Regions from separate parts of the Homo sapiens genome. Here region 2 is linked to region 1. The links come from fine-mapping of genetic effects on gene expression. A gene starts in region 1. The other region holds a variant in brackets. All regions are shown on one strand. Distances are between the middles of the regions.

The links. PIP is the estimated chance that this variant, and not a neighbour inherited with it, causes the effect.
Region 2: its variant is the best candidate, but not a certain one, in a credible set for the expression of HBEGF in whole blood (INTERVAL, PIP 0.89).

What each region holds. Positions count from the first base shown.
Region 1 is chr5:140,343,466-140,348,841 of GRCh38, forward strand. HBEGF (heparin binding EGF like growth factor) reads right to left here and starts at 3,138. Exons shown (of 6, transcript NM_001945.3): 1 at 2,818-3,138; 2 at 2,446-2,619. The coding sequence starts at 2,863. RefSeq lists silencers at 3,053-3,332, 3,373-3,422.
Region 2 is chr5:140,282,070-140,287,445 of GRCh38, forward strand. All of the region lies in intron 2 of PFDN1 (prefoldin subunit 1), which reads right to left. Among named protein-coding and RNA genes, the nearest start is that of PFDN1, 18 kb to the right of the region's middle. The variant C/T (reference allele first, on the strand shown) is at 3,010.

The DNA.
Region 1 (5,376 bases):
CCCTTTACAGCTCACCCACTTTCTCAAAGATTCATTCATATTTAACCCCCAATGTCCTGTTTATAGCTCTCTGGATTGGGGGGTACAGGGTGTACAAGGGATAGAAAAATGGAAAGTAAGGAACTGTCCAGAAGGAACTGGAACAATGATGACTCCCTCCTTCTTTCCATGCTTCAGAGAGACTGGGGGAAAAACAGCCTCACCCAGATATCCAGCTGGGATTGACCAGGGACTATGCCTATCAGCCCAATCCCACCCTTTTATCCCCCATCAGGAAAAAGGTGCCCACATCCATGGCTACAGCCATGTGTCTTACAGAAGGGTAAGCATGATACGTTAGACTAGAGACTTAGAGTCTCAAGCTAGAGGGACTTCAAAGAATACCATGTGGCCAGGCACGGTGGCTCACGCCTGTAATCCCAACACTTTGGGAGGCTGAGGCAGGTGGATCACCTGAGGTCGGGAGTTCGAGACCAGCCTTGCCAACATGGCAAAAATCTCATCTCTACAAAAAATACAAAAATTAGCCGGGCGTGGTGGTGTGTGCCTGTTATCGCAGCTACTCAGGAGGCTGAGGCAGGAGAATCACTTGAACCTGGGAGGCAGAGATTGCAGTGAGCTGAGATCGTGCCATTGCACTCCAGCCTGGGTGACAGAGTGAGACTATGTTTAAAAAAAAAAAAAAGAAAAAAAGAAAAAACTCATGGCAGGCAGAGTGACTTACTCAAGGTCATGCAGGATTGGGATTAGAACTGTGTTCTCTGGACTTCACTCCAATGTCCTTCCTCACCACACCAAGCTGCCTCACACACTCCCATCTCCTCCCTCTCACAAGTCTAGAGCACCTGAGATGCTGATCCAGGCATGAATGGGCTCTGAAGTCCATAGACCTGTGCTCCAATTTCAGCTATTTACTGTGGGCAGTCACTTAACTCCTCTGAACCTCAGGTTCTCAGTAAAATGTGGATAGCCAAAGTAACTATCTCAAAAGGTTGCTATAAGTGTTACATTAGCCAGGATAACATATCAAGTGCCTAGAACACAGTAGGAATTTAATAAATGGTAGCAGTCATTTATTTTAGGTGGTAGGATCCCCAGACCTGAAAAATAGTCCTTGCCCAGCAAAGCCAAAAGAAGGGAAGAGAAGTAGGTGCCAGCAGCCCCCACAGTCTTTCATTTCCTCTCATCCAGTCCCAGGCCCCCTCAGAGCTCAGAAGGTGATACAGGTGGTCAGAGGAACCCAGTGACCAGAGCTTCGGGGAGAGCAAGGCAGGGGGGCCAAGCCAATCAGAAAGGGGAGGGAGAAGGTGCAGGGTGACAGCCAGGCTCCTGCCATGGACAGGGAGCAGTGAGTCAGGTCTGCAGAGGTAAGAGGAGCAGCCGTGTGGGTGGGGGGTGGGGGTGGGGTGAGTCACAGCCCAGCCCTGCCCAGCCTAGGAGGAGAGGGCCAGGAGAATCCAGGCTGTTCAGGTCATGGGCAACCCCAGAGGGCCACTGGGAGAGGATGAAGTATGGGAGCCCAGGCTCAGTTTTGGAGTATGTGCTTGATTTATACAAAGTAGAGAGAGTATCCAAGGAAAGCTCCTGGGAATGAGGGAGAAGGGCAGCTGAGGAGCAGGTGGAACTAGAACAGGTGGGCATCTGTCCAACCAAATATAGTCATTCCAGGGTACAGTGCTGAGTCCTTGCTCTACTCTGGATAATCTCCTCAGGTTTGGAGGCAGGAGAGCTGGCAGGCTCTGGACTCTGCCCTGTACCTGTACTTGGCCACAGCCAAAGAGGCTGGTTGGAGGATCCTACACAGCCCTCCCCATTTGGAGTCTCCTCAGGAATGCAAGGTGCTCAGTAAGCTGCAGGTTTCCGGTAGCATTCACAGATATCCAGCATTTTAATACAGCCCCCTAGGGGCTCAGTGCTCACCATTCACAGCCTCATCTAGGGCGGCCAAGAGCTCCTCATTCCCCTCTGTTTCCCCAATCTGGAGACAGGTGGATGGAGGAGGCCAACACTGCACACTTTCTAGAGATGTGCCTGGGCATCTCCGCATGTGTTACCTCTATTTTATATATAATAGTCATTTGATATGGGAATTAGAACTGGCGCCCATTTTTACATAGTAGCTCTAGGGAAAGCATCTCAACCATTCCTTGTTCCTATCACCCAGCTTACCTAAGAAGAACGTAACAACCCCAGACAACACGTCTGATTCAATTTGCCCCGGAGTACCCAGAAGGGCAGCAACCCAGCAGGTGAGGCAATGACAAGAGAGAGAGAGTGGGACCTATATTCCAGGATCCCCCAGTGCCCATCAGGCCGATCAGCTTTTCCCCGAGGTTCTCCATGAATACCCTCAACCCACAGTATTGCCCAAACAGCAAGAATCTTGGATCTGCTTATTCTTCAACAGCCCACCAAGGTCCAAGGATGGGGGGCCTCCACACCCACCTCTCAAAAGGTCCAGATCTGCCTCTTGCAAGTCACGGACTTTCCGGTCCCGGCCGCCTCCTAGGGGTAGCAGCTGGTCCGTGGATACAGTGGGAGGGTCCGGGTTGCTGGTTCCAGCAGCTAGCCCTCTCCGAAGCCGCTCCAGGCTCTCGCCAGTCACCAGTGCCGAGAGAACTGCGGGCGAGAGGCCAGGCCGCATCAGACACCCGCCCAGACCCCTGACCAACACGCACCGATGCCGACGCCCGTCCGCCAGAGCGCAAGGGCCCCACCAAGTGGCCCGTGCCGGGTGCGCTGCGGCGACCTTCCCCCATGCCCCCAGCACAACGCCCCCATCCCCCCGATCTCCGGGGGCGTCGGCAGCCCTCTTACCTGCAGCCAGAAAGAGCTTCAGCACCACCGACGGCAGCAGCTTCATGGTCCCGCACCGAGAGGAGGCGGCGAGGCACCAGTCACTTTCGAAGCGGCGGCCACTGGGCGCTGGCACCAGAGCTGGGCGGCGGAGCTCAGGAGATTCCGCCGGGCACCGTCTGCCGCCCGCCTCTGCGTGCAAGCCTGGCCGGGACCCAGGCGCAGCTCGCTCTTCTTGAGTGTCTTGTCTTGCTCACTCAGCCCGCCCGCGCGGCCGCCCGACCCCGCGCGCCTAGGTCAGGCCAGCCAGCAGCGTGGCCCGCGTAGCTCCTTCGGCCGAATGAGCGCTGCCCGGCTCGCGGCCGGGAATAAGGCTCCAGGAGGCGCGGAAGCTCCGCCCCGCCCGGCGCCGCCCCCTCCCTCCTCCCGTGCTGGGAAGCTCGCCCGGCTCGCGGCGCCGGCAGCGCAGCCCCCGACCCCGCGGGCGCGGCGGAGGACTGGGCGGGAGGAGAGGGCGGCGTTCACAATTTTTGGGACCAGGCCGAGGCAGCCGCGGCCTGATTGTGGGTAGGGCTACTGACCGGCAGGTGGCGGAGAGCGGTTCCTACCTTTCCCCAAACGCCTGTCACTCTGCAGCCTTGTGACTGACTGCTGAGCTGAGTTCTGTTCCGGGCCTGGCCTCTTGCTTCATCTAAGCCCCATACCAGGGGTCTCCATCCCTGTCACCCTCTAAGTTTCAGAAGCCCACCTTTTGGCCTACCAACACGGCAAGTATCAAATAATAATTAATTCATCTATCATTTAAAAATTAGACACGTGAATGCCAGCCGTTCTCATAAACCCGAGATAACCAGAGTTGAAGTTGCAGGCACTTAGTATCAATCCAGCAAAAGCAAAGGAAGTTAGTACTCTCTTAGTCTCTGGAGTGGCTTCCTCCCATCTTCCCTCAGGGGACATTAGGATTTTTGAACTATGGGTTGTAATTCCCAGGCTTCTGAGATTGGAGAGACACAGGTTGTGAAACAAGCCTTATTCTTTTCCTTGCCTTTGACTGCCACCTTTTTCCTCAACATAAAAAATGAGCCACCCTCCCATAGGACCCAGCTGGCTAACCTAGATTGCTGTTTCACAGACACTAGGTGTTTCTCTTCCAACCCATGTGCTTTTGCAGGGGTCTTCTGGAGTCACTGTCCTGACCCAAAGAAATGAGTGTCTCAGTAGGTATTTCAGTTTCCAGGGACGTGCTGGGGAGAGAGTTGTTTGACACAGGGCTGGGTTGGCTTTCAGAGCCCTGAAATTGTGCCAGATAGAGCACTTGCCGGATTCTGCCTGTGTGTAGGGATAAAAACAGGCCTGCTATTTATACACAGTCTATCCCACTGTCCCTCCCTATCCCCACCTTTGCAGGGGTCAGTCTGGCCCTGCCCTCTTAACTTGCTCCAGTAACCTAGGCCTAGGTTTCCATAGTGCACTGGAATCACTACAGACCTGAGTTTGAATCCTGCCTTTGCTACTTACTGTGTGACCTTGGACAAGAAACTTAATTTCACTGAGCCTCAGTTTTGACGTCTCTCAAATGGAAAAAATAATAACAATAATAATAATGACTACTTTGTAGGGAGCTTTTTGAGAAATGAATGCGGGAACACATAAAAGTAGTTAGTATAGTGCCAGGCACACTATAAGCTCTCAATAAATGTGACCCATTATTATTGTTGCTGTTAATAATAATCACTAAGCACTTGACCACTCTATTTCCTTAGAGGCCTCTTTTCTCTCACTTCTCTAGATCGCTTGCCTTCCCCTAGGCCATATCTGAGGCTTTATGATATAGTTGGGCTGGTTTCAGACAGAAGCTCACCTGTCACCTATTTGGCTAAGAGCCACTGTTAGATTATCCTTTTGGGTGATGAGTATCGGGCCTAGGACCTCAGTGCATGGTCACCGCCCAAGCCATGACTTTGCCCTCCCTCAGCAGCTGCCTGGCCACCTGCTTCCCCAAAACAAAGCCACCTTGGGGTCAAGGCTCTCCCCAGGGGAGGGTGGAGAGAAACACTTCCTGACACATGGTCAAATCACCCCCTTTCCCCCACCCTCGCCAGAGTCACACCCTGCTCTCTTGCCCCAGCCTGCCTTTCTCCCTTCACATGCTCTGTCCTTCCGCCTTCTCACCCCCACATCAGCCTCAGTCCCATTCATGGGGCAACTCCAAACTTTCATCACACCTGGAGCCTCACCCCAGCTAGGTTTGTGTGTCAGCCAGGTTTTACAGGAAGGGCCTGAAAAAAGAAGATAAAAAGCTTGAATTGGATTTGGGACAGTCACTTCCCCTCTCAGAATCTTGGATGTCTCTGAGCAAAGAAAAGGAATCACAATTCATGCTGAGGCAATCTCATTAACTCAATTATATCATAAACATTAACTGAACATTTTTGGGGGGCACTGGGGACATAGAAATAAATAAGACAGCCCAGGACCTGCTTTCACAGAGCTTATATTCTATAGTAGACAGGCAGCACATTAAGGAAATAAACAAGGAAAAACATATCCTATAGTGATAACTGCTAAGATGAAAGTTAA
Region 2 (5,376 bases), 61 kb before region 1:
CCAGCTACTAGGGAGGCTGAGGTGGGAGGATCAATTGAGACTGAGATATCAAAGCTGTAGTGAGCCATGATTGTGCTACTGCACTCCAGCTTGGGTAACAGAGCAAGATCCTGTCTTAAAAACATTAAAAAAAAAAAAAAAAAGAAAAGAAAATCAGGCTTCAAGTAGATTCATATGTAAAAGAAAAAATAATAAAGGAATAAAAATATATCATACGCTAAGAGAAAAGTCAACATACAAACAAATACCCTATAAGTTTTGTTTTTTCAGTTATCTGTTTCAATTTTTATCTAGATATTTTTTAAACTATATTTGTAAAGTGGAGCGCCCCTCCATTTTTTTTTTTTTTTTGTAACAGCAGTAACTCATGACCTTTTAAAGTCACAATCAAGCACTGTGTTAGGATCAATGCATTAGTGTTTATATGAGTTCCTCAAACAAAAAGCACTGTATAAGCCTTAGTATCTTTTATTATTATTTCCAGAGTGTATATAGTACCTCTGAAAAGCTCAAAATGTACAAGTGGAAATTTTCAACTTTTTCCATTTTACATCAGGCACATTATTTACCACTGATGAGGGTGGAAATATGGAGAAGTTTTAAAAATTAACACTGAAACTGTTTTATGACTTTATGTTCACAATTCTTGCTTCAGGGAAAGGAAGAACAAACTTTTATAGCCCCAAGTAAGTGAACTGAAATATTTCCCCTCCACTGGAACCAAGGGAAGACCCCAGTTATGCAAATCTCTTTCAGGACTGTCTAAGGAAGCTAAAATATATTTCAATTTAATATTGCAATTAATTAAGCAAGATTTTTCTTCTCTTTGCACTAACAGAGTTCAGCAACAAAGAACTAAACATCATCTCTTAACAAAAAGTCAAACGAGAAAACACATCAAGGTAGCAACATGCAGTTTCCTCTGCCAACCCCACAAAAACATCATTGTGCCTAGGTGGGTTCTTATCAAGAGAGTCCGTTATTATAGATATAAGACAAGTAAAAACAGACCAAAAAGGGCAATTAGCTATGCCCCAACACCTGGAAGGAAACTGCCTTGTCCCCTCTTCTTCATAACTAAGCCTTACCACACATATTAATAAAATCTGAAGAACTTCTTTTACTCCACTAATTATTAAGCTTATATCCTAATGCGGCCAGCCCAGATAATTTTTTTTTTTGAGACGGAGTCTCGCTCTGTTGCCCAGGCTGGAGTGCAGTGGCATGATCTTGGCTCACTGCAAGCTCCACCTCCCGGGTTCATGCCATTCTCCTGCCTCAGCCTCCCGAGTAGCTGGGACTACAGGCGCCCACCACCACGCCTGGCTAATTTTTTCTATTTTTTAGTAGAGACAGGGTTTCACCATGTTAGCCAGGATGGTCTCGATTTCCTGACCTCGTGATCTGCCCGCCTCGGCCTCCCAAAGTGCTGGGATTACAGGCATGAGCCACCACGCCCAGCCCAGCCCAACTGATGATCTTAGTCTTCAGTAGTAACTTGATTCTTTGTAAAACCTTACTGTATATTTACAGGAAAGAGAGCCCACATTCATGCAAAACAAGGATTAATTCCAGGTCTTTTACTATAGAACCCTTCATGTCTAAAATATTCTTACTGGATCCAAGAGATGGGTGCTATTTCAGATAAGATTATGGTTTACAGAATATTTTTCTCAGAACTAACTCATATTTGTATTTGAAGAGAAGAGTTGTTTTGAACAGTACTAAGTCTCAGTAATGTTATGTAAAAACTATTCTAAAACAAGGTGCAAGAGTCACCAAATTATGTCATGACATGTGTGATTTTACTGAGAAAGTCTTTTAGCCATGGAAATAATTTTTTGAGTAAAATATACATTTTTAAGTAGCACTGATAGCTGGCCAATGAGTACTATTCTCAAATAAAAGGTCATCAGACATCATCTTTATTAGTGTCTGGGAAAATTTCAAAGCTAAGATTAGAGGTCAAGTCATTACTTATGTGGCCTTTAAAAATAAAGTATCTGAACAGATACTAAATCTCTTGAGCAGAAAATAAAATTACTAGAAAGCAAGAACACTCAACAACAAAAACACGTTTTTCCATGACCACATATCCTTTGAGGTAGCTATACTGGACTGTGCCAACTTCAAAGGCCAGAGAGATTCCACCGAAGCTGGCCAACTTACTACTACAAACCTAAGGACATCTCAGCCACGCAAGTTTTAACAAGGATGAATGTTGGGTAAATGCAAATGTCTACCTCAAAGAGTAGTTACACAGTAAAAATTCAAACACAAAAACTTATGGAAAGTTTGGTTTAGTCCTCAATTTAAAAAATGGCAAAGATATATTGTATGAAGACTGGAAAAGGCTCCAAGAAACATCTGATTTCTGAAAAAAAGTCTTTGGAAAACATCTTTCTTATTGTTTAAAAGGGCATTGGATTATCAGATACTATGTGAAGAGAAAGGATTTATCATGATAATATAAGTCTTATCATAAGCAAATATTATGTACACAGTTGCTCAATGTAGAGAATCTCATAGTCATTCTGCCTGATTGTTTATGGAAAGCCAAATAGTAAATAAAGAATTCTGGAGTTCAAAATGTACCAATAAGGAAAAATAAACCATGAAGAGGGAAAGTATTCTCTCATGACAAATAATATGCAGATAACATGCTTAAAATACTCAGGATTATATAACCTGAATTCGAGTTGATGCTTTGCAAAAGGCCTCTTCTTTGACCTGGAAATCAGTGCCACGTGCCTCTGCACTGTCCACTCTCAAGGACTTGTAACCTGCTATTTCACTTCCTCATTTATTTGTAATTATGCCATCTGAAAACATAATTCTGAGACTTTCGGTTTTGATTATTTGAGAAACATCAGACTCCGTTTTCTAAATCATCCTGCAGTTTGGTACAACTTCCACTTTCTTATAACTCAGTATGAATCAAAACCATTGTTCACCTGCCCAAAACACAATCCCAGATCACTTGCACTGCTGCATTTTGGACACAATTTC[C/T]AAAGTATGGTCACCTAGACATATGCTATTCAGAAACAACAAAATGCTTATGACGAGTTCACTTTGGGTGGGAAATTTTTAGAGGGTGTCTAAAAACGTATCCTATTAGCATTTAGGTTTCAGGGTATTCACAAATTAAGCAGCATAGAAAAGACATAAGAATGAGCCTATCTTCAGGAGAATGGCGTGAACCCGGGAGGTGGAGTTTGCAGTGAGCCGAGATCGCGCCACTGCACTCCAGCCTGGGCAACAGAGCGAGACTCCATCTCAAAAAAAAAAAAAAAAGAATGAGCCTATCTTGCTTCTTTGCCTAACTCCACTGGTGAGGAAAGTTACTGAATTTTTACGTCGTAATTTTTAGCGTGGAAGCAAGTAGAAATAAATTGAACTTCTTTTTTTAAAATTTTTTTAAATTGAATTTATTTCTTACTTTAATCACTTCCTTAGTAAGGAAGTGATTAAAACTTTATGGCACATCCACATTGTGGACTGCTCAGTGAGTTACAGACTTCTGTTATTGGCATAATGAAGAGTAGATACCCTGAACACTCCTGATTAGAAACAAAGGAAAAAAAAATTTTTTTTTAACATTTTGTTGAACTAACACAAAAGGAAGGATTCCACAAAGGTCCAAAGTGAAGTGAAACTGGGAATTCAGGAATGTAAGACAGCAGTAAATTGGCTTTCATCCTGAGAGTTTATGCTGAATCCTGGAGACCTTAAGTATCCACACTGGCACAGAAATAGGATACAAAACAGGAGATAAAACCAAGGGGGCAGCCAGGCATAATGGCATGCACCTGTAGTCCTAGCTACTCAGAAAGCTGAGGTGTGAGGATTGCTTAAATCCAAGAGTTCAAGTCCAGCCCAGGCAACATAGCAATGCCCCATGTCTAAAAAATAAATAAATTTTTTTAAAAAAGAATGACTAATTAAATAAAAAACCAAACCGAAATTTAAAAAAAAATATTTTTTTTATTGACATGTAAAGATGTCAATATAGTAAGTTAGTAAGTAAGTAAAAACTCAAGTTTAAAAAATTAGCACGTCAGCCAGGCGTGGTGGTTCACACCTGCAATCCCTGCACTTTAGGAGGCCGAGGTGGGTGGGTCACTTGAGTTCAGGAGTTAGAGACCCGCCTGGCCAACATGGTGAAACCCCATCTCTACTAAAAATACAAAAAAATTAGCCGGTGTGGTGGCGGGTGCCTGTAATCCCAGCTACTCGAGAGGCTGAGACAGGAAAATCACTTGAACCCATGAGACGGAGGTTGCAGTGAGCCAAGATCGTACCATTGCACTCCAGCCTGGGTGACAGAGTGAGACTCTGTCTCAAAAAAAAAAAAAAAAAAGAAAAGAAAAAAGAAAAATCAGCATGTCATTCCATTTTCAAGATGAAAAAATATGTAAAATAAAAAAGGATTTACACAAAGATGAAATGGGACTGGAAAAGAAAGAGAGAGCTTTTTAAAATTCATTGCTCGAAAAATGTTTCCTCTTGAATCCTCAATTTTTTTTGCGGGGGGGGGGGGGGGGGGGGGGGCGGGGGAGACAGTCTTGCTCTGTTGCCCAGGCTGGAGTACAGTGATGCCACCTCAGCTCACTGCAAACTACGCCTCCAGGGTTCAAGCAATTCTCGTGCCTCAGCCTCTGGAGTAGCTAGGATTATGGGTGCCTGCCACCACACCCAGTTAATTTTTGTATTTTAGTAGTGATAGGAGTTTACCATGTTGTCCAGGCTAGTCTCGAACTCCTGACCTCAGGGGATCCAACCGCCTCAGCCTCCCAAAGAGCTGGGATTATATATAGGAGTGAGCCACCATGCCCGGCCAAAGTTTTCTAAGTATGTAAAAAATTACCAAGTACAAAAATAAGACCTAGTCAGGTTAAATACCTTGCCCAGCTTGTATGTATTAGATTAGAACACTCGGTCTTTTTCGTACCATATTATAGTGGCTCTAATGTAAGTTATTATAAATATGTGTGTATGTGAATATATGTATACAAATAATCCAATCAACCTTGGATTAACTAGTTGGTTAAATTTGTTTCTCACAGGAGATACAGGCAAACAATTCTGAAATTGCTTTATATGTGTATGGGGATAAATAAATAAGTAAATGGACACTGGATGGTAGGAGCCGGGTTTCTCATATGAGAGAGAAGTTACAGATACGCAAGAAAGGAAGGCTAAAATGAACCCTGTGGTATCGAAGAGTCGGAGATATCAGTATAAACTCACAATCAGCTTAGTATGTGTACAGTGATGAACAGACACAGAAACAACTGTAGATATGTACATACACATGAATTAGTAGCATATATACACATATTATCTATTGCTAGTCACCAGAGGGCCTAGAAACGG